Homo sapiens: one gene and its partners. The protein of the gene in region 1 interacts with the protein of each later gene in a pairwise test. Each region holds a gene or a part of one and is shown on either strand. Other genes may lie near its edges.

What was found.
Region 2: the proteins of IL16 (region 1) and CAMK1 interact in binary tests that used the Homo sapiens proteins (3 or more experiments, as listed by UniProt).
Region 3: the proteins of IL16 (region 1) and EFEMP2 interact in binary tests that used the Homo sapiens proteins (3 or more experiments, as listed by UniProt).
Region 4: the proteins of IL16 (region 1) and SERTAD3 interact in binary tests that used the Homo sapiens proteins (3 or more experiments, as listed by UniProt).

The regions. Positions count from the first base shown.
Region 1 is NC_000015.10:81,297,404-81,305,405, forward strand, and holds part of IL16 (pro-interleukin-16), read left to right. Parts: intron 1-1,900; coding exon of another isoform or gene 1,901-1,944; exon of another isoform or gene 1,945-1,976; coding exon 1,977-3,072; intron 3,073-3,940; coding exon 3,941-4,109; intron 4,110-6,145; coding exon 6,146-6,247; intron 6,248-8,002. UniProt on the Homo sapiens protein: Interleukin-16 stimulates a migratory response in CD4+ lymphocytes, monocytes, and eosinophils. Primes CD4+ T-cells for IL-2 and IL-15 responsiveness. Also induces T-lymphocyte expression of interleukin 2 receptor. Ligand for CD4.
Region 2 is NC_000003.12:9,756,102-9,760,204, reverse strand, and holds the end of CAMK1 (calcium/calmodulin-dependent protein kinase type 1), read left to right. Parts: intron 1-454; coding exon 455-533; intron 534-629; coding exon 630-717; intron 718-918; coding exon of another isoform or gene 919-1,018; intron 1,019-2,358; coding exon 2,359-2,476; coding exon of another isoform or gene 2,477-2,583; coding exon 2,584-2,666; coding exon of another isoform or gene 2,667-2,688; 3' UTR 2,689-2,858; downstream 2,859-4,103. Other genes in the region: OGG1 (N-glycosylase/DNA lyase), read right to left, coding at 3,389-3,438, 3,584-3,734. UniProt on the Homo sapiens protein: Calcium/calmodulin-dependent protein kinase that operates in the calcium-triggered CaMKK-CaMK1 signaling cascade and, upon calcium influx, regulates transcription activators activity, cell cycle, hormone production, cell differentiation, actin filament organization and neurite outgrowth.
Region 3 is NC_000011.10:65,869,585-65,877,839, forward strand, and holds the start of EFEMP2 (EGF-containing fibulin-like extracellular matrix protein 2 precursor), read right to left. Parts: upstream 3,217-8,255; 5' UTR 3,099-3,216; intron 2,778-3,098; 5' UTR 2,771-2,777; coding exon 2,660-2,770; intron 2,435-2,659; coding exon 2,386-2,434; intron 1,780-2,385; coding exon 1,573-1,779; intron 1,075-1,572; coding exon 952-1,074; intron 654-951; coding exon 537-653; intron 393-536; coding exon 273-392; intron 1-272. UniProt on the Homo sapiens protein: Plays a crucial role in elastic fiber formation in tissue, and in the formation of ultrastructural connections between elastic laminae and smooth muscle cells in the aorta, therefore participates in terminal differentiation and maturation of smooth muscle cell (SMC) and in the mechanical properties and wall integrity maintenance of the aorta.
Region 4 is NC_000019.10:40,440,965-40,449,663, forward strand, and holds the start of SERTAD3 (SERTA domain-containing protein 3), read right to left. Parts: upstream 3,372-8,699; 5' UTR 3,251-3,371; intron 3,114-3,250; exon of another isoform or gene 2,891-3,113; intron 1,652-2,890; exon of another isoform or gene 1,591-1,651; coding exon of another isoform or gene 1,525-1,590; exon of another isoform or gene 1,359-1,524; intron 1,123-1,358; coding exon of another isoform or gene 1,117-1,122; coding exon 526-1,116; 3' UTR 1-525. Other genes in the region: BLVRB (flavin reductase (NADPH)), read right to left, coding at 6,925-7,082.

The DNA of each region.
Region 1 (8,002 bases):
GTGCCAACATTCCAGTTGCAACAGTCCTGCTGCATTCAGGATTTCTGAGTCAGAGAATGCAACGCCAGAAAAGTATAAATAGCATCTACCAGTGGTCACCTCCTCCATGAGGTGGATAGCAAGGGTGTGTCCACATGGTACACCTGACAATGCTAAGACATGACTTGAATATTTATTTGCTTGCTAGAGAGAGCATAGGACTTGAAGTCAGGGAATCCTGGATCTGTCTGTCATTAGTATGATTCTGAGCAACCTACTTTGCCTTTCTGAGCCCAGATTCACTCATCAGCAATGTGTGGAAGAGCACGTAGACCCCAAGCATATGATGCATTCAGCAAGCACACATTGAATGCTGGCTTCGTGAGGCCCTGTGCTAGATGCTGGGGGGAGAGAGAGAAAGGGATGAGACCAGGTAGTCAGGTCCTGCCTCCAAGGAGCAACTAGTAGTGGCAGGAAATAAACATATAGACTATAAAACATATGACTGTTTGAGTAACACTACAGAAAAGCTCATGAAAGACTTTTGGAGGGCTAAGGGACATTTTGGAAAGATCTAGCACATCTCACCCAGAGCAGAGGCCCTGTGGGTGGAGGCTCCTCTCCCTTAGTCACCCTAATTGAGGAACATTCTAGCAAAAGCAAACGCCTCAGTGTTTAACTGACAGGAGGTTGTCACTCCAATCTGCAAAGGGCTTGCCTGTGGAACCTCTGCCTCCTGATTCTCACAACAGCACCTTACAGCCAAGCCATTCAAAAATGCAGAAACAGGCTGGAGGCCTGGGCTCACTTGCCCAAGGCCAGTCTCTTAGATTGTGCAGAATTTCTCTTTGATATCATCAAGGTGTAATGCTCCATGATTCACTTCTTTTGAAACCTGGCATTGAGACAAGGGACAGGAGGGATCAGAGTTCCTTCAACTGGGTTGCGTTCCAGTAGCAAGCATCCCCCAAGGCACACAGGCCAGCCTCCCTCTGCCCCTGGGAAAGAGAGCCAGGACACCCTCTCCCTTACCCATGCAGATATGATGCTGGTTCAATGCTGGCTTCTGAGAAAGACTCCTATGTGCTCCAGGGCATGCCTGAGGTCCTGGCTGGCACAGAGCAGGTTGCACATTGCAATCCCCTGCTCATCACATTCCCAACACCCAGGCTGCATCCCAGGTATCTTCAGTCAGTACCTAGGGGTGGGCGTCAGTATTTTTCAGGGCCCTCCAGATTCCAGTATGTAGCCAAGGTGGAGAATCCTACTTCACAGATTCCTTTCTACCTGGAACCTTTTCATCAGCTTTTGAGGGAGGGAAAACACTCCTTTGCCGAGAGCAAGCTGATCAATGACCTGTGTATAGGCAGAGCAGCAAACACACGGCTTCAGGGCCAGGCAGGTACATACATGGGAAATGCTGGCTGGGTGAGAGGGAGCGTGAAGAGCTGTGGGAAGCCGAAGTGGCCCCATCAGAAGCTGTGCACAGGCACCTTGTTTTTAATGACACGGGTAGGTCAAAGCACAAACAGCTGCCAACTCATGACCTTTGTCTTAAAAGTTTAAACGGCAGGAGAACTGCTTTGGCTTTTACACATTTAACATGGTATCTTGGAGGCTCCTTAGTGCAGTAGAAAGGACATGAACTTCAAGAGTCAGGAGACACAGGGTCTTGCCTGAGCACTGCCATCAGATGGCCCCTTACCCTTCTTGAAATGTAATATGCCAGAGGTCGGCCCAGATATTCTCTGAGCACCCTTCCAGGCCTAAAACACTAGGATACTGTGAGATTAACTCCTACTTCTGGTCCTTCACTCCTGCCTGTTGGCAGCTCAGTCAGGTAATAGCACCTGGAGTTCACCCACCTGGGTGTCCCCCACTTCTGCTAATCTCCTCCTCTTGAATCCTTCTTGCTGTTCAGCTTGGAAACTAGAATTTAGGAAGAAAAGTCACTGTATGATGTAATGCACAGCTTTGGCCTTGTTTCTGCACTGTAGTGACCCAAACATCCCCGATAAAACACCCACTGCTTAAGAGGCAGGCTCGGATGGACTATAGCTTTGATACCACAGCCGAAGACCCTTGGGTTAGGATTTCTGACTGCATCAAAAACTTATTTAGCCCCATCATGAGTGAGAACCATGGCCACATGCCTCTACAGCCCAATGCCAGCCTGAATGAAGAAGAAGGGACACAGGGCCACCCAGATGGGACCCCACCAAAGCTGGACACCGCCAATGGCACTCCCAAAGTTTACAAGTCAGCAGACAGCAGCACTGTGAAGAAAGGTCCTCCTGTGGCTCCCAAGCCAGCCTGGTTTCGCCAAAGCTTGAAAGGTTTGAGGAATCGTGCTTCAGACCCAAGAGGGCTCCCTGATCCTGCCTTGTCCACCCAGCCAGCACCTGCTTCCAGGGAGCACCTAGGATCACACATCCGGGCCTCCTCCTCCTCCTCCTCCATCAGGCAGAGAATCAGCTCCTTTGAAACCTTTGGCTCCTCTCAACTGCCTGACAAAGGAGCCCAGAGACTGAGCCTCCAGCCCTCCTCTGGGGAGGCAGCAAAACCTCTTGGGAAGCATGAGGAAGGACGGTTTTCTGGACTCTTGGGGCGAGGGGCTGCACCCACTCTTGTGCCCCAGCAGCCTGAGCAAGTACTGTCCTCGGGGTCCCCTGCAGCCTCCGAGGCCAGAGACCCAGGTGTGTCTGAGTCCCCTCCCCCAGGGCGGCAGCCCAATCAGAAAACTCTCCCCCCTGGCCCGGACCCGCTCCTAAGGCTGCTGTCAACACAGGCTGAGGAATCTCAAGGCCCAGTGCTCAAGATGCCTAGCCAGCGAGCACGGAGCTTCCCCCTGACCAGGTCCCAGTCCTGTGAGACGAAGCTACTTGACGAAAAGACCAGCAAACTCTATTCTATCAGCAGCCAAGTGTCATCGGCTGTCATGAAATCCTTGCTGTGCCTTCCATCTTCTATCTCCTGTGCCCAGACTCCCTGCATCCCCAAGGAAGGGGCATCTCCAACATCATCATCCAACGAAGACTCAGCTGCAAATGGTTCTGCTGAAACATCTGCCTTGGACACAGGGTTCTCGCTCAAGTGAGTTTCTACACCCGGTGTTTCTCTTTACCTTTCTCATCTTTTTCTTTCTCATCTTTATTTTTAAAAATAATCCTATATATAATTTAAAAAATTCCCAGATATATTGATTAAAGAATTGTTCTGCCTCTTTCTTTCCATGTGTGTGCAGATGTCTGAGTGTGTGTGTGTCTGTCTGTAGGTATTACACCTCTGCCTTTCACATTAAGGAGGAGTTTTCACAACATCTGGCTTCAGGAGGGCTGGGAGGTAGGAGGTGGGACTGGCTCCCTGGTGAATTGCTCATGAGGGCTGACATACGCCTGTGGAGATTTGGAAGGTTGATGCACATCTGAAATGTCCTGCGGTTACTCAGAAAGACCAGAATGAGGCCAGGAAATTATCCATCAGGAATTCTTACTCTCCAAATGGAATCCACTTGTACTCTGCACGTGGGTTCAACTCCCTCGTCAGGGAGTTAGGATGTCTGGGTCCTAGTCTCAGCTTAGGCACTGATTCTGACTATGAGCAGGTTCTTTCCATGCTCACCCTCAGATTCCTTGTCAGTTGAAATTAGGAGATGGATGAGACCTTCTATGCAGAACCAAGAGGATGTCAGACGTGCCATAGGGTCCCTGCTGTAGGGCTGGGGCTTGGTCTTCCCTCTGATCAAAGTAGCTCTGCATTTATTAGTTTTATTTATTATTCTTACACTGCTGGGAAATATCTGTAGAGTGAAGGTATGCTAGTATCTACTCATAGATTTGTTGCATCAAATAATATGCACATAAGTGCTTGGCACCACACCTGGGACATAGTAATTATACAATCACTGTTACCTCTTTTTAATATTGTTGTTCATACTGTGTGTTGTTTCTCCTTATGAAAGCCTTTCAGAGCTGAGAGAATATACAGAGGGTCTCACGGAAGCCAAGGAAGACGATGATGGGGACCACAGTTCCCTTCAGTCTGGTCAGTCCGTTATCTCCCTGCTGAGCTCAGAAGAATTAAAAAAACTCATCGAGGAGGTGAAGGTTCTGGATGAAGCAACATTAAAGGTAGGTTTCCTTTGTAAGCATCTGCAGTAACCAATGGCTTATTATGGCTGTGTGGCCACCTTAGTTGGGCCAGAGGGGAAGTAGCTTGAGTAGCCTGCTCACATCAGACCCAGGTTGCGTCCTGTGATGGTGGGACACTGTAGCACTTGACCACAGTAAGACCTTCCATTTGAAGAGAGCCTTTTAGCTTGTGAACCACTTTCAGTAGATTGACTTCTTGCATCTTCTTTTGTCATTTTATAAATGAGAAAGGTAAGGCTCAATCAAGGTTACAGAACCTGGGTTTTCTGTCTCCAAGTTCAAGTTCAGTGCTGTTTCCACATTCCATGTGCTGCTGTCCTGGCATGTGTCTGTTGTGGGATGCTGTCCATTGTAAACAATGTGGGTTACAAGAGCTCTCACCTGGAGCTTTCATTATTTCCACTGTGCATGGAGAGGTGGCTGATCCCAGGGCTCACAAGTCCCCCACGCTTCAGTCAAGTCATTCTGAAAGTCTCACTTCCCATATGTTTTCTGAGCATGACCCAAAGGGGTGTGGGGAGGAAGTGGCCAGGCTGAGCTGGGGCCAGCAGTCAAATGAGCTCAGGCTCATGGGTCCTGCACCCTCTAGGTGCTGCCCCAGGCCTCCGTAGGCTTTTGGCACTAGAATGATCCAGGCTAGGATGAGAGGATAAGGAGGTTCTCGTTTTCCATACAAGGAGGCCTCATAGCTGCAATTTCCACATCAAGAGTGTAGGTGAGTCTGATGAGCCCAAGGTGCTGCTGTGCTGAGATTCTTTCGCTGTGGCTTTCACTTGTCACCTGGGACCATCATCCCCCAGGATCTTACTCAGTGCAAATGAAATAACAGAGGCAGAGCGTGTAAAACACAAAGAGCCATCCTGCCTGAGCTGCTCTGGGGAGAGTATTTGCTTTCTAACATGAGAAGAGCCTTCTACAAGGCAAGTAACCTGATACTTGGGTAAAAGTTGAGAGAGTTGGGCTAGTGTTGGGGCTTGGAGGTGAGGGTGCAGTGAGGTACATTCATCCTTCCATGCCTTTGGGTCTTAGGGGCTCCAAGTCTTAGGATCATAGGGACAGCTGCAAGTCAGGTGCTCTAGTGACGCTGAGCAAGTGAATTCTTTGACATAAGTTTACTCCTTAGTGCCAAGGTACAAACAGGTGCCCCAAGAACCTGTAGGTGTACTTTATTTGGTCTGCATGGTGATGAAAAAAATATTGAATTCTATACATGATAAAACCTGAATTGAAACCTGGACTTTAGGGAAGTGATCTGGTAGCGCTAGTTCTGTATGCCTACGTAGAGCTGACCCTTTGAGCAGATGTACTCGTTGGCGCTCTGCAGTTCCTATCACACATCTGCCCATTTGGCTCATTTTAGGGACCTGCCTGACTCCTATAGGCATCTGAGTTTGAGACCCCTGCTCTAGACTGGAATAGGAGTCTCTGACTGTGTCCTGGCTCCATGGGAGTCCCCGTCTAGGCTAGGAAGTACCGTAGTAATGTGTGTGTGTGTGTGTGTGTGTGTGTGTCACACTTGCACACTGTGCATTGGGGCAGGATGTTAGCTGGGCTTCCTTAGTGCTGCTGCTGTGACCCATGGAGAAGTAGAAGGGAAGAAGGAGCAACCAATTCCTGCAGAACAGCACTGACCCCTGTTTTGTTTTTTGTTGTTTTTTTTTTTTGTTTTGTTTTACCTGAAGTCCTACAACCTGACTTCATCTCACACTGTCCAATATGCTGATTTCTGGCTGACTTCATGGCACTCCCCCTGCCCGGCTGTGGACAGGGTGAATGAGAGAGGAAAATAATTATGCTTGCTGCTTTACATACATTTTTTTTTTCTTCTAAGCTTCCCATGACTCCTGAAGGTCCATTCTTTACAGATGAGGAAACTGAGGTTTGAGGAGGTGATGTAACTTGGAGGCTGGCCAAGCTGGGGTTTGAGATAACAAATCAGTCTGATGTCAGTCCGATGTTAAATTGTTCATCCTCTTGCAGTAAAATGTTTTTGAATGTATGTATTTCCTCTGCAGCAATTAGACGGCATCCATGTCACCATCTTACACAAGGAGGAAGGTGCTGGTCTTGGGTTCAGCTTGGCAGGAGGAGCAGATCTAGAAAACAAGGTGATTACGGTGAGTGGCCAAGTGAAGGGGCATGTCACAGCCAGAGGCAATGGTTCTGGGGGAGGGGGACACACTTGCCAGGAAGGGGCCCTGTGCTGGGGAAATGAAGAATGCATGACACTAGGCCACTGGGCAGGTCCTGTCCACTCAGCACATCCCAGAGCCTGGGGCTGCGTGGAGAGGGTAGCAGGCCTGGCCATGGGCATCTTTTCCTGTGGGTCCCACTATTCTGGCTCATCCAATCTGATCAGCATTGGCTGCTGCCTTCAGGTCACCTGTACCTGACCCAGATGGTTTCTGGTTCTGCCAGTTTTGTGGAGCCATGCTGCGGCTGCTCGCTCTCTAAAGCCGAGTGCATTGCTGTCATCCCAGGGCTGTGTTGTCTCAGGGTATCCTTTGTGTAGGCTGTGCTGGGCTCATTTGAATTTCCATGCCCAACTGAAAACAAATCCTCCAGTTCACAGCATCAGCCAGCATTCAACATACCACACCCCCTTGCAGTGGCAATCTGGCATGTTCCTGCGTGTCACTTCAGAGTCAATCATGTCAGTGGTGACTTCCTTGATTTCCTGATAAGTTTTCTATCACATAAAAAACACTTAAAACCTGTAAGTCTCTATTTCTCTCACTGAGTGCAGCTGAGTATTACAAAAAGATTCCTGACCGTGTAGTTTACTTTCTACTTGAAGAGGAGGAAAGAGAGCTTGCCTGTGGGAATGGCACTTTGGGTATTTTTCTCTGTCCATGAGTAGCAACTTCTGTCCACGTCATCTGGCCAGTCACCCTTGAGACACTGCAGACAACAGGAAACTAGGAGGAAGGCGCACATGTTGGCTGAGCACATGCACAAAAGCTTCTTTCTCCTTCTGTGTTTGAGCATTTCTCTTCCTTTCCAGATGATTAAAAGGGAACTAACGTAGAGCACCATCCACGGCCATGCTGAGCACTCACTGACCTGTTGTCTAAATTCATCCTACCCACACTTTGGATTGATAAATTGGTGGCATTTATGCTTCTTTTATAGAGGAGGAACCTGAGGTTCCTCCTTTAATTAACTTTAATCTTCGTTGGCCTAAAAATCCTCTAGCATTGAGGAACCTGAGGCTCAGAGGAGAGGTTCTGCTTCATGCTTGGATGTTACAGCCTGGGGATTCTAACCATGTAACAGAATTTTTCTAACACCAAAACAATTTAGAGAAGCAAAGAGCTTTGCTCCTATCATAAAAGCAAAACTACAGGTACCACATTTTAGTGGTTTCCATGCATGCTATCACTCAGTCCTCTTAATTATAATGGACCTCATTAAAGAGGCTGAGGCAGAGACATGAGATATTTTTGTGTGTTTGTTTATCCCACATATCTTGCAGAAAGGGGACCAAGAGGTGACTGGAGGTAAAGAGTCAGAATTTCTAGGGGAGGAGCTATAAAAATGTCTAGACTGCCTAGGAGAGTGTTTCTCAAAATGCATTCTGCCAAATGAGACCGAGAATTTCTCTATGAGAAAAGAATTCTTTGTTGAAACACTTTGGGAATCCCCATAATACCCTGCCAATACTTAGAAATCTGCCATGCAGATTTGCATTGTAGACCCTCTAAATGCCTTTTGCTTAGAAATCTGCTGCCATGCAAATTTGCATTGTAGACCCTCTAATGCCTTTTGCTTTTTAAAAGTAGACAATGTCAGAGCTTTTGTTTCACCCAGTATTCCTCAAGTTTCTTTGATTTTAAAAAATTTTTCTTGGCCGGGTGTGGTGGCTCATACCT
Region 2 (4,103 bases), on another chromosome or scaffold:
GTGGCACAATCTCGGCTCACTGCAACCTCTGTCTCCCGGGTTCGAGCAATTCTCTGCCTCAGCCTCCCAAGTAGCTGGGATTACAGGCGCCCACCACCATGCCCGGCTAATTTTTTTTGTATTTTTAGTAGAAACAAGGTTTCACCATCTTGGCCAGGCTGGTCTTGAACTCCTGACCTCGTGATCCACCTGCATTGGCCTCCCAAAGTGCTGGGATTACAGACATGAGCCACTGTGCCCGGCCATATGTTTTTCTTAAGAGAGAAAGGAAAGAGCTGGAAGGCACGGGGTGGGAGGGCCTGAAGAAGAGCATAGGTTGGGTGGGGTGGGGCATGGACTGATTTGGCCTCTTTGTCTTGATGCCAGGCCAGACCTGAGGGAGTGGGTATGCTCTTGGGGAGTACACAGGCAGTACCATGCTGTCATTATCTTTGCTTTTGTCTTGGGGGTTTAGCCAAAGATTTCATCCGGCACTTGATGGAGAAGGACCCAGAGAAAAGATTCACCTGTGAGCAGGCCTTGCAGCACCCATGGTGAGAATTCACACAACCTGTGAGCTGGGGCGGGATTTGGGGCCCTCAGGTCTGCTTCTGCCCTCATAGGCAACCCACCACATAACCCCATCCTAGGATTGCAGGAGATACAGCTCTAGATAAGAATATCCACCAGTCGGTGAGTGAGCAGATCAAGAAGAACTTTGCCAAGAGCAAGTGGAAGGTGAGTCCATATCCCTAGTTCTGGTCCCAGCCTCCCCAGGACTCCTCCCCATCCCTACCCAGGCTCAGCTTGCACAGCACCTGGCATCACACTGGGCACACAGTAACTGCTTAGGGATCCTTACTGAAGGACTTCATTCATTCACTCTTTCATTCAACAAACACTCCCAACACCTTCTCTATTCCAGAGAGGGTCCCTCACCTCCAAGTCTAGAGGAAGAAGTCTGTAATTCTTCAGGAGGCATCTGATCCAGCCTATGGGGTCCGAGAAAGGTCATAAAAGTGGTGATGACCTGACAGAGCTGTCAGTTAAGTAGGAATTAGTGAGGCATAGCGGAATAATGTCTATAGCCATTCCGGGAAGTGCAAGTGCTAAGCCTGGCCAGACTGGAGGGGCTGAGGGGACTGAGAGGCAGGAGCCCAATTTAGAGAAGCAGGTAAGGGGCCAGGCCTCTTAGGGCCTCATATGCCACAGAGGAGCACCAACTTGATCCTGAGGGCACTGAGGAGCCCCAGAAGAATCTTAGGCAAGTATTTGCTGCATAGAAAGGGCTCTCAGGGCCAGGCATGGTGGCTCACGCCTGTAATCCCAGCACTTTGGGAGGCCGAGGTGGTTGGATCACCTGAGGTCAGGAGTTCAAGACCATCCTGGCCAACATGGCAAAACCCTGTCTCTACTAAAAATAAAAGAATTAGCCACACATGGTGGTGCGTGCCTGTAATCCCAGCTACTTGGGAAGCTGAGGCAGGAGAATTACTTGAACCTCGGAGATGGGGGTTGCAGTGAGCTGAGATCGCGCCACTGCACTCCAGCCTGGGCAACAAAGTGAGACTCCACCTCAAAAAAAAAAGAAAGAGCTCTCAGGATGCAGAGAATGGCATGGAGTAAAGACTGGGTGACGCATTAGGAGGCTGTGGCAGAGATACAGGCAGGAGATGGTAAGGGTTTGGAACCACAGTAGCAGCAACAGGGGGCAGAGAACAGTGGTTGATCCAGGAGTCATTTAGGAGGTGAAACTGACAAGACATGACGATGCAATGGATGTTGGGGGAAAGAGATGTCAAGGGCTGGCCCAAGACTGTGGCTGGGAACAGAATGGATGGTGGTGGTACCATGACTGAGATGGTTATCACAGGGACAGAAACATGTTTTGGGGGGATGGTTTTAGTTTTAGACATGGTGAATTTGAGGGGTGTGTGGGACACCTAGGTGGAGATATTGAATAGAGACACACCTGAGCAAGTTACTTCAGCTTTCTGTGCCTCAGTTTCCTCCTTTGAAAATGATAATAGTACCTACCTCAAAGACTTTCATGAAGATTAAATGAATTACTACGTAAAGTGCTTAGAACAGTGCCTGACATACAGTGCTATAGTGTTTGCTATTACATATTAATATGAATTATAGTTATGTTTCTATTTATATATATAGATACACATACATCTAACATATGTGCGTGTGTGTGTGTAAATATATAATAAAGCCTTGTAGAGGTTTTTGGGGGGCTTTAGGGGAATTAATAAAATAACTCCTGAATGAAAATAACAGAACAATTGCAAGAATCCCACTGCGCCCCTGCCCCATGACTTGACTCTCTCAAAAGTCCTTTCTCCCCTCTCCCTTCAATGCCTTCAATGCCAGCAAGCCTTCAATGCCACGGCTGTGGTGCGGCACATGAGGAAACTGCAGCTGGGCACCAGCCAGGAGGGGCAGGGGCAGACGGCGAGCCATGGGGAGCTGCTGACACCAGTGGCTGGGGGTGAGGAGCGGGCTCTGCAGAAGGGCATGGGTGGTCCACAAAGGTGCACCCGGGCTGGAGTGGAGGGCCTGCCCCTGCGGCCACCTCTGTTCTGTCTTCCCATGCAGGGCCGGCAGCTGGCTGTTGCTGTCGAGACTGCTGCGTGGAGCCGGGCACAGAACTGTCCCCCACACTGCCCCACCAGCTCTAGGGCCCTGGACCTCGGGTCATGATCCTCTGCGTGGGAGGGCTTGGGGGCAGCCTGCTCCCCTTCCCTCCCTGAACCGGGAGTTTCTCTGCCCTGTCCCCTCCTCACCTGCTTCCCTACCACTCCTCACTGCATTTTCCATACAAATGTTTCTATTTTATTGTTCCTTCTTGTAATAAAGGGAAGATAAAACCATCCTTAGCGCTGTCTCCCTCAATATCCCCCACCCCATCTTGTTGTGCAAACTGACTGCTTGATTTGGGGGTGCCTGGCCTTTGAGGTAGTCACAGGGAGGCCCCTCCCCAACATGAGACTGGGTGGGGATGGGGAGAGAGAAGTGGGGAATGGAGGGGAAGGTGCTTGGGGAATTTCTTTGTCCAGGGTGCCCCATCTAGCCTTCCGGCCCTTTGGAACCCTTTCTGCGCTTTGCTGGTGGCTCCTGAGCATGGCGGGATTGGCGCAGGTCGGCACTGAACAGCACCTGTAGGAGGGTGGAGTCTGTGTGGGGAGGAGGGTACACTGGGGTCAGGGCTGGTGAGACTAGTGACAGTGTTGGGAGGTGGAAGAGTCCTTGGGGAACAGGGCCGAAGGCAATGAGAATCCACTGGGGTTGGGACAGGGGTGGCTGGAGAGTCCTTTAGGGCCACCTGGGGCGGTGGTGGAAGAGTCCACTGGGTCTGGGCTGGAGGAGAGGAAACCTAGGGAGGACACCTAGGTACACTCACCGCTTGGGCCCAGCCAGCATAAGGTCCCCACAGGCTCCGGAAAAAGTTTCCTAAATCAGAAGTGATGAGACTAAGTTATCTGACCCCTTCTGTGACCCATCAACAGAAGTAGGGTCTGAGGGAGAGGTGACTAAGAGAGAGAGAAGTTTCTACCATCCCAGCCCACTGCCAGCCCCTGCAGCCCACTTTCCTCACCCAGTTCCTTGTTGGTCTGGGGGCTCGGTCCCTTCGCCTGGGACGTGGTAGGGTGCCAGCTGTAGTCACGTTGGGCAATGTGCCACATATGGACATCCACGGGCACAGCCTGGGGCTTGTCTAGGGCCATCAGGCAGATGCAGTCAGCCACCTTTGACAGACACAGAATGAGCCCTTGTGGAAGAAGGGCAGCATGTGGCCAGCATCTTGCTTATAGCCCCAAAGCCGGCTGCTTTCTCCTTCACTCTGGGGTTACTGTTGTTCTATATTCTCAATCAACAGATACTATCTATGAATACACTTTTTTTTTGTTTGTTTTTGAGATGGAGTCTCGCTCTGTTGCCTAGGCTGGAGTGCACTGGTGCAATCCTGGCTCTCCCAGGTTCAAGCAATTCTCCTACCTCAGCCTCCCAAGTAGCTGGGATTACAGGCATGTGCCACCACGTGTGGCTAATTTTTGTGTTTTTAGTAGAGATGGGGTTTCACCATGTTGGCCAGCCTGGTCTCGAACTCCTGACCT
Region 3 (8,255 bases), on another chromosome or scaffold:
AAATGCAGGTGAGCCTGATATGTGGGACAGGTGGCACCCACATCCTCAGTCTCACCAGTAGGCTTCAGTAAGGACGTAGCTGCCTCTCCTTGTGCCTCCCCCACTAGCCTGGGAGTGCTCCACAGCCAGCCGGGGTCGAGTACCCAGGAGGCAGCTGGGTGCACAGTGACAGGAGGCGGAGGCCTCAAATGGAGAACTGTGTGGCAGGAGGCACGGCATAGCTAGGGCCTGGGGGTCCACAGAGGAGTACACAGCAGGGATGGAGCTCTCACCACTGCAGGAGAAGCCATCCCGATGCAGCTCATAGCCCTGGTGGCAGCGACACAGGAAGGTCCCATAGGAGTTGAAGCAGCGCTGCTCGCATGGGGCCCCCATGTCACACTCGTTCACATCTGGGGGTGCCAGGAAAAACAGGAGGGATGAAAGCGGAGGAGGAGCCCAGAGCCTCCACTCTACCTGGGCTGGTCAAGAAGGGAGCGCCCCCACCTCACACCTCCCTGCCCAGGACCCAGGAGCCTGGCCCAGCCCAGCCTCACCAACACAGGAGCGGTTGTTAGGCCCCAGCTGGAAGCCCGGCTCGCACTGGCAGCGGAAGGAGCCAGGCAGGTTCACGCAGCGGTGCTGGCAGTAGCGGTAGCGGCACTCGTCTATGTCTAGGGATAGAGGCAGGAGAAGGAGGGCGGAGGGCAGAGGGCAGAGGGCAGGTGGGCTCGAGCCGGCTGGGACTCAAGGCTTCACCACCCATAATCCTGTGTCCGAGGAGCTGAATTAGGCAGGGTCAGCCAGGACACCTCCCAAACACTCCCCGCTACAGTCCTCTGTGTCTGATGACGGAGGGTGAGGTGGCAGGGGCCGGGGGTGAAGCCTGGCTTGAATGGGGGTCAGGTGCTAGGGCAAGGGCCAGACCAGGGACACAAAGCCGGGACTACAGAAGCTGCTTCCTGGACTCACCCACACACTCGGGCCCGATCTTGCGGTAACCATCAGGGCAGGTGCACTGATAGGAGCCAGGCAAGTTATGGCAGTCCTGGCTGGGGCGACAGTCGTGCAGGGCCTGGGCACACTCGTCCACATCTGCGAGAGACACCACTCAGCCCCTGCCTGGGATCCCGCACACCACCCAACATGACAGATAGTTCCAACACTTGTATTCGGTTCTCTCAACAGCACGCGTAAGAGTTCACCAGCCTGGAGCCATCAGGAAAGGCACCCCTAACCTCTAAAACCACATGTTGGGGGTTGCACAGGAAATAAGGTCCTGTCCAAACATCCCCAGCAACACTGATTCCTGGACTGTCCTTCCTCCAAGGCCTGTGGCTCCCAGGGGACAGACACTGGAAGGCAGACTTCCTGCAGTGTCTCTGCAGCAACCGAGGGGAGGGGCCCGGAGCTGGCTGGAGCAGTGGCACACAAGCTGGGGCCACCTGCGGCAGGTCCTAAACAACATGAGTGTCTGGATGAGGGTGTGGACATCACCAGTGGCCCTTTTGAGCTGGGGAGGAACATGAGGTCTGAGTTTAAGACGCCTGGTGAGAGGACTGGAAGCCAGGCACCAGAGCAGTCCCCACTCACCCACACAGCTGTCCTGATCGTCGGGCTCATAGCCTGGTGGGCAGGGGTTGGGGTGTTGAGCGGGAGGCACTGGTGGCGGGGGTCCCTCGCCGTGTAGGTCGTTGATGACGGCAGCGGAGCGGGGCAGGCACAAGTAGCCCCCGTAGTGGTTGATGCACTTCATTTCCCCCTTGCAGGCCTCAGGGATGGTCAGACACTCGTTGACATCTGCAGAGAGGGGCCTGCTGGGCACAGCCAGTCTCCTGGGCTGGCCCTGGAGGGAGCGGAGGCAGGAACCCAGCTCGGCCTTCTCTGAGATGTGTGGCCCCAGCAAAGCCTTCCCACTCTGCTCAACAAGCTAAGTCTGCCTGCTCAGGACCCCTCCCCAGGGTTGGCCAAGGCTGGAGATGGGGCAGCTGTTCCCACTGTTGCCCTCATTCTCGGCCTGCAAGTGGGTCTCTATCCCTCCCCACGGCCCTAGCCCTAGCTCAGCCCAAGATGGGGGGCCTCCTTACCCACCCCTGGGGACGCTACCCTCCCAGGTTGTGATGAGACAAAGAGCTGGGACAGGAGAGTGGTTCAGAGAAGGCGTACAGGATCCAGCTCCTCTGAGGGGTAGGGACAAGGTTTCCTGGGTTTCTGGGAGAGGATGAGGCCACCCCTAGCTCAACTGGCCTCCAGAGAGCCAGAGCTGGCCTCTGTGTAGCAGAGCTGGGCATAGAACGGGCTGCTGGGCTCCCACGGCAGTTCTTGGAGGTGGGGCTGTCCCTTGGAAAGCAGCTATCAATCCCTTTCCGGGTTCCTGGGGGTGTTTGGTCCCCCAGGCACACACACCCCGGCAGTGCTGGCTGTCTGGGTCCCACTCATAGCCATCTGTGCATTCCTGGAAGGGAACCAGAAGTGGCCAGTGGTCACCCTAAGATCTCCTCCAACTGGCCAGGCCAAGACTAGGGCCTGAGCCTGGCCACCCTCCGGCCTGCTCCAAACAATGGCCCCCAGCTCTCCACCAGCCAGGGGAGGAAGACTTCCCCGGCAGCAGTCACCCTGGGTCCCGGTCTCTTCCTCCCTACCCTTCCTGTCCCAGGCCAGCGGCCCTCACTGTCCCCACCGTGTAGCTGTCGGGCTCTTCAGAATCCTGAGGAGAAGCTGATCCCAAGAGCAACAGTAGCAGCGCCCAGAGCAGTAGAGACCCGGGTAGGCAGGAGGCGCAGGGGAGCATCCTGGGGCTGCGAGATGGTGGACACGGGTCAGGGGCCTCTGCCCGCGGCACCTCAACTCCCTGTACCGGGAGCCCGAGCCCAGCCCCCGCCACTGCCCGCTCAGGACCGTGCTTGGGCCTCGGGGCCTCCCAGGGCTGGGGGCCGACTCCTCACAGGCCCAGGTCCCAGGCCCGGGTCCCAGGCCCACCCGCCCCGGCCACCCCGCCCCCGCCCCGCGCCCCTGCGGCGAAGGCCGAGGAGCGCGGGCCTCTGTGGGCGCTACGCTGCCGCGGACTCGGCCGAGACTCCGGCCCACGCCCTCCCCCACGGACGGTCACAGCCACTCACTTGGGCCCGCGACACCCCCGCGGCCCGCGGCTCTGGCGGCTCGGCTGGCTCGGGCAATGCCTGCGGGCAGACGGACGGGCGGACGGCACAGCTCCCTGGACGCGCGGCCCCAGGAAGCGCCCCCCGCCCGCCCGCCTGCCGCGGCGCGGCCCACCCCGGCGCCTCCGCCCGCCCTTCGGCGGATTCCTGAGCCAGCGCCAGGGGGAGGGACCCCGACCCCCCGCTTCTCCGCCCCCGGCCAGCCACAGGCCCCTACCCGGTCCCCCGCGGCGCCGCCAGGAGCCGCCTCCCGGCGCCGGACCAGGGTCCCCCAGTGCTCGATCCTGGGGCCCCGACCTTGATGCCAGGCCCCCAGACTCACCCGGGGGCCCCCAGACGCTCACCAAAAATGTCATCCTGCTCACCTAGGTCCTACCTAATCTGCGCCCCCAGAATTTCATCCTGTGCACCCACACCGTAATCCTGGAGCCCCCAGATTCTCATTGTGCGCCTCCCGAGATCGTCCTGGGTACCTAGAGCCCACCTAACCCAGTCCTCCAGACCCTCAATCTGCTCCCTGCAAAATTTTATTCTCTGCCCCAGACCGTCATTGTAAAAGATCCTAAAACTTCATCCAGGGTCCCCAGACCCTCGCCCAGGAACGAGAGGCTCCCAGGAGCAGAACTGTCCTTCTCGCTCCCTCCTGCCCTCCACCCCCAGGACCGTCTTCAGCCGGGTGGTCCTTTCACTACACACGGCCTCCCCCACACCCTCCATCCACAAAGCTACAAGTTTGGGGGCGAGGGCGGCAGTTCCCTTTTGGCACAAAATGAATGGAAGCCCCTGAGAAGGAGGGCAGGGCTGATGTCGGACGTGCGGGATGCCAGAGTCGGGTGCCAAGGCGCCTCCTCGACCTCCTCGCACCAGCGTCCCCCGCCCGGTTTCCGCCTCCGCCCGAAGTGGGGGCGTGTCCTTGGGGCGGAGTATGGGCGGGGCTGGCTCCCAGGAAGGGCGTGGCCTCTGTTTGCCCACGTCTTTGGGCGGGGCCAGGCGGGAAAGCACTGCGTGTCCGGGGATCCCCCGCCTGGGGCCCGCCCTTCCTTTCCCCTTGCCATCCCTGCTTATCCCCGCAGTCGCCCTCCACGTGACCCCGGGGAGGGAGTCTGCCGAGGAGGGGACGTGCTGGTGGGTCCCGCGGCGAGCGCCTGGGGCTCAGGTGAACTGCGCAGTGCCCGCTCCTCGCCACTCTGCCACCACCATCCCTCCCAGCTGCTGGGGCAGAAGGTTAAATAATAGCTCTTTAGGGGCCGGACGCGGTGGCTCAAGCCTGTAATCCCAGCACTTTGAGAGGCCGAGGCAGGTGGATCACCTGAGGTCAGGAGTTCGAGACCAGTCTGGACAACATGGTGAAACCCCGTCTCTACTAAAAATATAAAAATTAGCCAGGCGTGGTGGCGCGTGCCTGTAGTCGCAGCTACTCAGGAGCCTGAGGCAGGAGAATCACCTGAACTCGGGAGGTGGAGGTTGCAGAGAGCCCAGATCACACTGCTGCACTCCATGGGTGACAGAGGGAGACTCCATCTTAAAATAATAATAATAATAATAGGCCCGACGCGGTGGCTCACGCCTGTAACCCCAACACTTTGGGAGGCCAAGGTGGGCAGATCACAAGGTCAGGAGTTCAAGACCAGCCTGGCCAACATGGTGAAACCCTGTCTTTACAAAAACACAAAGAAATTAGCTGGTGTAGTGGCACGTGCCTCTAATCCCAGCTACTCGGGAGTCTGAGGCAGAATAATCTCTTAAACCCGGGAGGCAGTTGTTGCAATGAGCCGAGATTGTGCCATTGCACTCCAGCCTGGGCGACAGAGCGAGACTCCATCTCAAAAATAGTAATAATAATAATAGCTCTTTAAAACGAGAAAGACAGTAACAAGTGTTGGCAAAGATACGGAGAAACTGGAGCCCTCATGCACTGTTGGTGGACAATGGTCTGGCAGTTCCTCAAAATGTTATCACATGACCTGACAATTTCACTCCTAGGTATACATACCTAGGATAATTGAAAAGATATGTACACACACACAAATCTGTACGCAGCGTTTATAGCTGCACTATATATAAGAGCCAAATGCAGAAACAACACAAAAGCCGTCAACTGATGAATAACAAGATGCAGTACATCCACACAGTCGAACATTATTCAGCCATAAAAACTAATGAAGTACTGATGCATGCCACAATATAGGTGAATTCTTTTTTTTTTTTTTTTTTTTAATTGAGACGGAGTCTTGCTCTGTCGCCCAGGCTGGAGTGCAGTGGCGCCATCTCGGCTCACTGCCAGCTCCGCTTCCTGGGTTCACGCCATTCTCCTGCCTCAGCCTCCTGAGTAGCTGGGACTACAGGCACCCGCCACCAGGCCCGGCTAATTTTTTGTATTTTTAGTAGAGATGGGGTTTCACCGTGTTAGCCAGGATGGTCTCAATCTCCTGACCTTGTGATCCGCCTACCTTGGCCTCCCAAAGTGCTGGGATTACAGGCGTGAGCCACCGCGCCCGGCCAATATAGGTGAATTCTTGAAACTACTATGTGAAGTGAAAGAAGCCAGACACAAAAAGCCACATATTCCATTTATTTTTTATTTTTTTTAGATGGAGTTTCGCTCTTGTTGCCCAGGCTGGAGTGCAATGGCATGATCTCAGCTCACCACAATCTCTGCCTCCTGGGTTCAAGCAATTCTCCTACCTCAGGCTCCGGAATGGCTGGGATTACAGGTGCCTGCCACCACACCTGGCTAATTTTGTATTTTTAGCCGAGATGGGGTTTCACCATATTGGTCAGGCTGGTCTCGAACTCCCGACCTCAGGTGATCCACCCACCCTGGCCTCCCAAAGTGCTTGGATTACAGGCGTGAGCCACCGTGCCTGGCCCACGTATTCCATTTATATGAAATAACCAGAATAGGCAAACCCAGAAAAACAGAAAGTAGATTAATGGTTGCCAGAGGAAGGTGGGGAATGGGGAGTGTCTGCTAATGGGGTCTGGGTTTTCTTTGGGATAATGAAAATATTCTAACACTAGATAGTAGTGATGGTCACACAACTATGCAAACATACAAAAACCCACTGAATTGTACACTTCAAAAAAGTGAATTTTCTTTGGGAGGCCGAGGCGGGTGGATCATGAGGTTAGGAGATCAAGACCATCCTGGCTAAGACAGTGAAACCCCATCTCTACTAAACAAATTAGCCTGGCGTGGTGGCAGGCGCCTGTAGTCCCAGCTAATCGGGAGGCTGAGGCTGGAGAACGGCGTGAACCTGGGAGGTGGAGCTTGCAGTGAGCCGAGATCGCGCCACTGCACTCCAGCCTGGACGACAAAGTGAGACTCTGTCTCAAAAAAAAAAATGTGAGTTTTATAGTATGTAATAATACCACAATAGGCCAGGCACGGTGGCTCACGCCCGTAATCCCAGCACTTTAGGAGGCCAAGGTGGGTGGATCACCTAAGGTCAGGAATTCCAGACCAACTTGGCCAACATGACAAAACCCCATCTCTACTAAAAACACAAAAATTAGCGGGCTATGGGGGCGAACGCCTGTAGTCCCAGCTACTCAGGAGGCTGAGGCAGGAGAATCACTTGAACCGGAGAGGTGGAGTTTGCAGTAAGCCAAGATCGTGCCACTGCACTCCAGCCTGGGCAACAGAGCAAGACTCTGTCTCAAAAAAAGGAAATATAAAAAAAGGCAGGAAAGGGGTGCTGCTATCACCCCATTTCACAGATAGGGAGGCTGAGAGACTTGTCCCAGGTGAAGGATGGGACTTGCACTCATGTCCCACGGACTTCAAGACTCGCTGGGCTCCTTGCCCCATATTAGAGCATTAAGGACCCGCCCTGCAAACACCCACTCTGTGCCAGCCACAGTGGTGGGTGCTCCACTAAGTATCTTCCACTCAAGCCTCAGCCTGAGAATTGTCATTGCCAATTAGAGATGAAGACATGAGGCCCAGGGGGGATGACTTAGTGCACAGCTGGTGCACAACCTAGACCTGAACCTCCATCTTTGCACTATCCAGCCCGAGTGAGCCTTCCACTTGGAGTTGCCTCCTCAGAATGCCTCCCTCGTCCTCTGCACCCCCAGTGACTTTCCCTGCCTTCGCCTGCTCTGCACTGGGTCCCTTTCAAGGTCCCAGACACCACTGGATCAGTGTCTCCCTCCTACCAAGCAGGGAGCTCCTCTCAGGCAGTGAGGCCCCTGTGCCCATGGCCCAGCCCTTACTGGGTACCAGCTGGGATCTGCAGAGTAGGCAGTTGAATGAACAAATGAGTGAGTGGGTGGAGGAAGTTCATTGATTCACTCAACAAATGTTTTCTCGGCCGGGTGCAGTGGCTCACGCCTGTAATCCCAGCACTTTGGGAGGCCAAGGCAGGTGGATTGCTTGAGGTCAGGAGTTTGAGACCAGCCTGACCAACATGGTGAAACCCTGTCTCTACTAAAAATACAAAAAGATTACCCCAGCATGGTGGTGCACACCTGTAGCCCTAGTTACTTGGGAGGCTGAGGCAGGAGAATTGCTGGAACCCGGGAGGCAGAGGTTGCGGTGAGCCGAGATCGTGACACTGCACTCCAGGCTGGGCGACAGAGTGAGACTCTGTCTCAAAAAAACAAAGCAAAACAAAACAAACAATGTTTACTGAGTGGCCACTGTGAAGCAGATGCTGTGGTGCTAGCCAGGGACACAGCACTGACCAAAAACAGACCCAAACCTCCTGGCCTCAGGAGCTCTAGTTCAAGGGAAGGGAGGAGAGGATCAAAGGGAAGGCCACTGGGCCCCACACCTCCAGTTCCTTTTCCCCGTGGCCTCCCACATCCCCTACCATCACAAGAGGCCCACACTGGGACCTCCACCTCTGAGGGCTGACATGGAGCCTTAACTATCAGTCACACACAGGACAAGACTGGCTGGGGCCCATAACTGGGCTCTAGAACCACAGGGCCAGGCACCACTCTGGGGATGGTCTGTCCACTGCATTTCAATAAAGGCAGCAGCATGCTTTTCAGATAGAGAAGCCCCTTGGTTTACTCTCTGGGCAGGGTGACAAAGTGTGGCCTCACGACTCTGGGAGGAATCCTAATAAAGAAACATGGTAGGCCGGGCGTGGTGGCTCACGCCTGTAA
Region 4 (8,699 bases), on another chromosome or scaffold:
ATTGCACGTGGTCCGGCCTGGTTATGAAATCAGGAGGCTGCTGAGACTGGGGTCCTGCCGAGGAAGTGGGGTTCAGCCTGGAGGGAGGACACCAGCCCCTCCCACCCCCTCAAGGTGCAAGAGGCAGAGCCTGGGTTTCTATAGCAACCTGGCAGCACATCCCTGTCATCCTTCGACAGGCCCAGCTTTCTTTATCTTCCCTGAGGCCCCAGTGGTCACAGGGGAGTGGGAACTAGCAGGAAAGGTGGAAGAAATGTGTAAGTGGAAAATCAGACTCCCAGAAACAGAGTCTCGTTAAGGCATTTGGAATAGATAAATTAATTCAGGAAGACCCACCTTCACAGAAGGTCGGGGTAACCAGACACACACACACATGCAAGACAGTTTGTGGAACCCTGAAATGGGAACAAAGGAGGCCATAGTCACTGCTTCGAGCCCCCACAAAAACACACACCCAGAGTTGCATTCAGGGATCCAGGCCACCGAAGATGACATGAGGAAGGATCGATCCCCTCTATCACAGTTTTAGGACCCCAGAATGATTTCCATGATGTGATCCAGTTCATTCCACTCCCAAGAACCTGGGGCACAGAAGAGGTTGTGAGGAGGCTCTGGTGGGGCCCGTGCAGGCTCCTTTTCTACCGCAGATGTGTCAATGTCCAGAAAGAAGTCATCCAGGCCAGAGTCCCCCAAGTACCGGGAGCTCAGAGCTTCTAAGAAGACTGGATCAGGCTGGGGTGGCACTTCATTCTGGAGGCCAAGGGGAGTCACTGGATTCTGAGGGGGCTCAGTCCCATCCATGGAGGTGTCCAGCTCCCTGAGGATAGAGCCAATGGTGGCTGACAGGGAGAAATCCTCCTCGCCCAGGAAGAGGGGCTCGGGGGGCAGGGCAGGGGCGGGAGCCAGGCGAAGTGCAGCCTGCAGCTGTTGGAGGGTGTTATGGATGAGGACATGCCTGCGGAGGCTGGGTGCTCGGGGGCCCAGGCTGCGCTGGACTTTGTCTAGGGAGATGCGGAGCAGGGCTTGCTGGTAGCTCTGAAGGCCTGCTGGACTCCACTCCCACCTCTCCTCCTCCTCTTCCAAATCAGAGTGTTTCCTCTTCAAGCCTCCCACCATGATGCCCTGTAGAGAGAAGAGGCGCATAGGGGAAGGTCAGACACCAGACACCGTAGTGCTGGCTCATATCCCACTTTCTCAGGCCTATTGAGTTGTTAGTGATTTTTAATCATCGGAATCTCAGTTTACTGATGTATAAAATGAAGGCTGTCTGAATCCTACAAGTTTAAGAAGGTGAGTACATATACGATTAAGAAAATAAGATCTGGCGTTACGTACAGCTAGATTTAAATCTCACTTACTTGCCTGTTGTGGCCTCAAACAGTGAATTTACATCCATGAGAATCAATTTCCTCATCTGCCAAGTACGGATCCTAACTCAAGTTCCTCTAAGCCTTAAAACTGTTCTTCCACAATATTAATTTCTTCAAACATGGAGCACGAAAGACAAGTGTGGAGCACAGAGACCTGGATTGGAAGTAGGGAACCCCAAATCTGAATTCTGTATTGGAAACTGCTCAGCTGCGTGATCATGGGAAGTGATCTGAATGAGTCAATTCTCAGGGCCTCAGTTTCCTCATCTGTAAAATAGGGACTGTAAAAAAATACTTCTCACCACCTCTGTCAAGGAGATGCCACGTATCTATAGGGCCCACCACACCGGAAGTGCTTAATGAACAAGAGTTGTGTTTGTTTTTTGTTAGAGACAGGGTCTCGCTCTGTCGCCCAGGGCTGAGTGCAGCAGCGCTATCACAGCTCACTGCAGTCTCGAAGTCCTGGGCTCAAGCGATCCTCCCGCCTCAGCTTCCTGAGTAGCTGGGATTACCACCACACCCGGCCTCGATCAAGAGTTAATTGCCAGTTATTCGCTCAACAGATTTACTGAGTGCCTACTATATTCGAAATCTCCTGGAGCCCTGTTGGGGAACCTATGTTGAGATTCTTCTTCAACAGTCGGGATATTTCTATGTCCTCTTCCTTAACCGACTGGGAGCGCTCCCAAGAGTAGGAAAGGGGCCTGTCTCATTCCCTCTGCCCACGCTTTCAGATTCCCCCAAAGCGCGCCCCATAGGAAAACTTGCTAGAACTCAGCTCAGACCAAGCCCCGCCCCCTCGGAGGTCCCACTCAATCAGACCGCGACACTGTAAGGCCCCGCCCCCCCATGGGTCCTTACAGAGCATCCAGGAACGCCCCAATTTGGCCCAGGGGCTTCTGGGAAACGGGGGCCAACAGCCGCCAGGTACACGAATTGACGTCGAGCACGCACTACAATCCCCAGAGGGCTCCGCCCGTCCAGGGGACGAGCCACCCCCCTCACCCCGCTCTCCCTCAGGGCATGCGCACAGGGGCACAGGCGGGTGGGGGAAGGGAACCTGGACGTCCAGCTGCCGGCGCCTGCCGAGCCCCGCCCTCCATTGCCTCCGGGGCCGCGAGTCTGAGCTCCAGGCCCGGAACACCCCTCCCCCACCCCAGACTCCGGCTCTAAATTTGCTTTCTCCCGGTCCCTCTGTTCCTTGAAAGTCCGCGATTCTCCTTCCAAACTGCCCTTGGATCCAGAGACCCAGATCCGAACACATCGCTCAAAGACGACAATGCTCCGATCTAGTTCGGGAGACTACGTATCCTAATTCTGATACTTCCTCCCACTTCTCCTAGTCTCCTGACTTTCAAACGCCCCTGGACTTCACCTCCAAACTCGCTGTCCGGCTCCAAGACCCGAACATTGAACTCTTCCCGGCAACCTCCTTCCCCCGCCAGTGCGTCTTGGAGTCCCAAGAATCCTTGACCCTAGTTCTCTCGCTTCTCCAAATACTCAGAATCTCAGCTCCGTACCTCTCACACCTTTTCCAGAACACGATAAAGCCCCGAATTCAACCCGTCCGGAAGACCCAAGTGGAATCGAATCTCCAGGTTCCCTGTCTCAAAAGTTCCTCCCCTCTGTTCTCTCGCTTCTCCAAAAGCCCAACGTCCCAGCTTCAAACTCCCTCCACTTGAAAATACTGCCCCAACAACCTCGCCTCCCCTCCTGGGTCTTGAACTCAGTCTCAGGTCCCCAGACCCTCCCTATCATCACCCTGAATCTGAGGCCCCCTCCCCCGGTCCCACCCAGACCCCGCCTCCGCAAGTCCCCGGGGCGCGCTTCTCTCTCCCCCAGCCTAAGGTAAATTCCCAAGCCAGGCGACCACTCCTCACCGCAGCTGCCAGGTTCGCCACGACCACCTCCTGGAACGCCCACAGCGTTGCGACCCGCCAGTGCCAGGACCCACCAGTGACCGGTTGGAGCCTCGCTCACCTCGGCGGGGCCTCTCCGTCTGGCCTCTGGCCCACCAGCCCCGCCCCGGAGCCGAGCCGCGAGCCGCGATTGGCTGGAGTCCCGCCCGCCGCGGGGCGTCGATTGGCTGGGCGGAGCCATCCGCCCGTGCCCCGAGACGCCGGATCCGCCCACCCCTCCCTAGCGCCCCGGGCCATTTAAAGAAGTGCAACTGGCAGGGGGCGGGGCAGCGACTCCGGGGTGGAGGGCGGCCGGTCCAACAGAACCGCTTCCTTCCACTCAGCTACAGTCCTCGCTCCAAGATCGTCACCATTGCTCCCTGCGGTTCCTTTATGGTAGGCCTGGACTCCACCGTGGAGCCAGAGGGGCTGGCATGCCCCTCCCCAAGTCGCTGTGCAGGCGGGCGGGGCCGAGCAACCGGAGGAGGCCGCGCCCCCGGGGTTCCGAGGGAGGACGCTGGGGCGCGGGGGATGACGTAGCGGAAGACCAGCCAATAGAGTGGCGCGGCCCGCGTTGCCTAGGCGATCGTAGCCTCGCCCCCTTGCTGCCCCTCCCGCCCCCTATACGTTACCGCGCGGCCCCTTCTTAATCCTCAGGTTTTCTCAGCACGTCCTCTGGTGGTCCCACCTGGGTCTTCTGACACCCTCTTTCCTTCCCCGCTCCATCAAGATGACTCCTCTGCTACTGTTCATGGCTTCCTACCCACCCCGAATACAAACTTCAAACTCCTTCCTTTTGCCACAAAGCCCCTCACGACCTTGCTTGATGCGTTCTCCTGGTTCTCTCCGATCCTGCCCCATTGAGTCACTTCCAGTTTTTCTAAAATGGCTTCAAGCTCCCATTCACCCCATCAGGAAAACGAAAGGATTTTCTCTGTTTGTTTTCTTCCCTGCTTTACCCCAGTGTCTACAACAATGCCAGGTACATAATAAGTTCGCAAACATGACAATAAAAGGCCTCTGGATCTTTATTATTAATATTATTTTTTGCCGGGCGCAGTGGCGCACGCCTGTAATCCCAGCACTTTGGGAGGCGGAGGCGGGCAGATCACTTGAGGTCAGGAGTTTGAGACCAGCCTGGCCAACAATGGTGAAACCCCGTCTCTACTAAAAATACAAAAATTAGCTGGGCGTGGTGGCGCACGCTTGTAATCTCAGCCACTTGGGAGGCTGAGGCAGGAGAATCGCTTGAACCTGGGAGGTTGAGGTTGCAGTGAAGGCGAGATCGTGCCACTGCACTCCAGCCTGGGTGACAGAGAGATGGGGGAGGGGGGAGGGGGGTTTTCTTGTGTTGCCCAGGTTGGTTTTGAACTCCTGGCCTCAAGCAATCTTCTCGCCTCTGGATATTTAAACTTGTTTCCTCATCCTCAAAATATACCCTCAATTCCCAGGCTGCTTCTCAGAACACATTTCAAAGGTTTCCTCCTCTCCGAAGCCCTCCCTGGCAGTCCAGGTTGGGTTAGGATCCATTCTAGGATTCCATGGCCTCCTGTGCCGCCATCCCAGTCCTGGACTGTCAGTTACTATATGGACTGAGGAACGCCCCGCCGAGGGCAGGTACCAAGGATATCTCTGTCAACCACCTCTTGGTCTGCAGGATCACCTAGCACAGGGCTGGACACGTAGCAGGTCCCAGTGAAAGTTTGCTAAATGCTCAGGAATGTGACAGAAAAATAAGGCAGAAAGAAGACACTGCTAGTGTCCTGAAAGCCCACACCCGTAATGCTCCGCCCCTACAACGAGTTTCCCTAAGGGGAGGAGGCAGTTTTCTCCAGGCCACCTCTGGGAAGGGAGGTTTAAGCCTCCTCAGACCAGTTCTTGCCGGTTGGAGTTTGTCAACCAAGTCATCCTGATGTTTGCAGGATAAATGGGAGGGGAATAGGTAGGTGGGTGGTGTGGGTTGGAGGTAGGGAGAGAGAAGTGTCTTAGCTCACCCAGGCCTAGGGAAGGTGTCCCTGGGAAAAAAAGAAAGGGACAGTAGGTTCCAAAAAAGGACATAATTAGGAAGGAGCAATTCTTCCCCTTCCTCCTCCAAAACCTGCGCCTCCTATAGGGTCCACAACTCAGGAAAGCCCTACTGCATTTGGGTTTTTGTTTTTGAGACGGGGTCCCACTCCGTCGTGGATGCTGGAGTGCAGTGGCGCACCTTGGCTCACTGCAGCCTCAGCCTCCCTCCTGAAGCACTAGTGTAACTCTGTCCCCGGGTTACAGCCGTATGCTTCTTTCTGATGCCTCCCCTCCACCCCTCACCAACTGTCCACGCAGGCTCCCAGGCATTCCTCACACCCACTCTCTCCTCCCCTCCTTACAGTTCCTCCTCCAACTCCCTCTGGGCTATCAGCCTCCATTCCTGGACCCTTCCTTTCCACCTTCACAGAGTAGCCAAAGGAAGCTTCATAAAACACCCAACTGTCCCCCCTGCCTTACTTCTCTGGTGCTCCACTCCTTGCATAAATCCTCAAAATAAAGCACAAACTTTTTTTTATTTTCAGAGACAGGGTCTGGATCTGTCCTACAGGCTGGAGTGCAGTGGCCAGGCCTTGACCTCCTGGCCTCAAGCCATTCTCCCGCCTCAGCCTCCTGAGTATCTGGGACTACAGGTACACACCACCATGCCCAGCTAAGTTTTTAAAAATTATTTTGTAGAGATGGGGTCTCACTATGTTGCCCAACCTGGACTCCTGGCTTCAAGCCATCCTCCCACCTCAGCTTCCTGAGTATCTGGGACTATAGGTGCACACCACCATGCCCAGCTAAGTTATTATTATTATTATTATTGAGATGGAGTCTCGCTCTGTCACCCAGGCTGGAGTGCAGTGGCACAATCTCGGATCACTGCAACCTCCACCTCCCAGGTTCAAGCGATTCTCCTGCCTCAGCCTCCTAAGTAGCTGGGATTACAAGTGTGCATCACCACGCCTGGGTAATTTTTGTATTTTTAGTAGAGACAGGGTTTCACCATGTTCGCCAGGCTGGTCTTGAACTCCTGACCTCAAGTGATCTACCCGCCTCGGCCTCCCAATGTGCTGGGATTCCAAGCATGAGCCACCATGCCTGGCCAGACTCAATAAACTGTTACTGGGCGGGGCGCAGTGGCTCACGCCTGTAATCCCAGCACTTTGGGAGGCGAGGCAGGCGGATCATGAGGTCAGGAGATCAAGACCATCCTGGCTAACACGGTGAAACCCTGTCTCTACTAAAAATACAAAAAAATTAGCTGGGTGTGGTAGTGGGCGCCTGTAGTCCCAGCTACTGGGGAGGCTGAGGCAGGAGAATGGTGTGAACCTGGGAGGTGGAGCTTGCAGTGAGCCAGATTGCGCCACTGCACTCCAGCCTGGGCGACAGAGCAAGACTCGGTCTCAAAAAAATAAAAAAATAAAAATAAACTGTTACTGAACAAATGAATGAATGCATAACAAGCAAATCTTACACAGAGGCAGGCAGACACACCAAAATACTCAGACAGAGGCAGAGAGAGGAAGAGTCACACAGTCGGTTTCTCTAGAGTAATTTGAAGCTCTTGGCTCAACATTTATTGCCCCCTTCCTTTGCTCCTCATGTCCCAGAATGCCACCCTCCCAGATGGGGACAGAGTGCTACTGGTACTGGTGGGAGGGGTAGGTGCTGTGTCCGTCGTACTCATCGGTGGTGAGGCAGCGCAGCATGAAATGGCCCAGGTCATGTTTGGAGATGACCCTTGAGGGCCCTCGTCCATCCAGGGTCACTGTGTACGCCCCAGTTAGTGGCTGGTCTCCTATGAAGTAAAGACAAGAGGGGCTGGATAAAGCAGACACCTTTCCCTTCCCCCAAAATTCGACCCCCAGAAAGACCTTCCCAGGGTGCCTACTGTGTGTCCAGCCTGGGTGGTGTCACAGCCAAGAATGGACTTTCCATATGCAGGTGCTCATCTATATCCTTTGCTTCATTCATTCGATAAATCCTTATTGATTACCTATTGTGTGGCCAGGTGCTGGGCACCCAAGCAAGGGACAAAGCAGACAGGAATCCCCTGCCCTGGCCAGTGGCGGTGGCTCATGCCTGTAATCCTGGCACTTTGGGAGGCTGAGACAGGAGTATCACTCAAGCCCAGGAGTTTGAAACTATCCTGGGCAACACAGGGAGACCCTGAGTCCACTAAAAATACAAAAATCAGCCGGGTGCAGTGGCATGCCCCTGTAGTCCCAACTACTCAGGAGGCTGAGGCTGGAGAATTGCTTGAGCCAGGGAAGTTGAAGCTACAGTGAGCCATGATCGTGACACTGCACTCCAGCCGGGACGACAGAGCAAGACCTTGTCTCTAACAACAACAACAACAAATATATATATATATATATATATATATATATATATATTTGTCAGATAGATATATATCTGTCTATCTGACAGTAACCAACTAAACTTAGGGATACAATGTACCATCACCCAAACAGAGACAGGCTGGAATTATGCACAGTATGGAACACACACCCTTGGCTGTGTGTTTGCTTGGGACAAAGCAGACAGGAAGCTCCTGCCCTGGCTGGGCACAGTGGCTCACGCCTGTAATCTCAGCACTTCGGGAGGCCAAGGTGGGAGGATCACTTGAGCTCAGGAGTTTGAGACCAGCCAACATGGCAAAACCACATCTCTACAAAAAATGCAAAAATTCGCTGAGTGTGGTGGCTTATGCCTGTAGTCCCAGCTACTTGGGCAGGAGAATCACTTGAGCCCAGAAGGCGGAGGTTGCAGTGAGCCAAGATTGTGCCATTGCGCTCCAGCCTGGGCTACAGAGGGAGACCCTGTCTCAAAAAAAAAAAAGGAACACACACCTTCACCCATGTGGCATTCCTGCCCAACATGTTTAATCTGAATCTGTGACAAAACAGCTAGAAAAATCCAGAATGTGGGCCTTTAAAGTCACCTGGCCTGGTTAATGTTATGAGAAACTTAAAGAAAAAGGGCAGAGTGGGTTGAATTTTTTTTTTTCTTTTTTGGATAGAGTCTTGCTCTGTCACCCAGGCTGGAGTACAGTGGTGCAATCTTGGCTCACTGCAACCTCCACCTCCCAGGTTCAAGCAATTCTTGTGCCTCAGCCTCCCGAGTATCTGGGATTACAGGTGTCCGCCACCACACCTGGCTAATTTTTGTATTTTTAGTAGAGACGGGGTCTCACCACGTTGGCCAGGCTGGTTTTGAACTCCTGACCTCAAGAGATCCACCCGCCTCAGCCTCCCAAAGTGCTGGGATTACAGATGTGAGCCACCACGCTGGCCTGACAGTTGGGGAAATTTTACTACGGAGTGGATACTAAATGATATGACAGAGTAAATGTCACTTTCCTTAGGTGTGAGCATGTTTTGTGTGCAAATATCTTTCTTTTAGGAGATGGCTG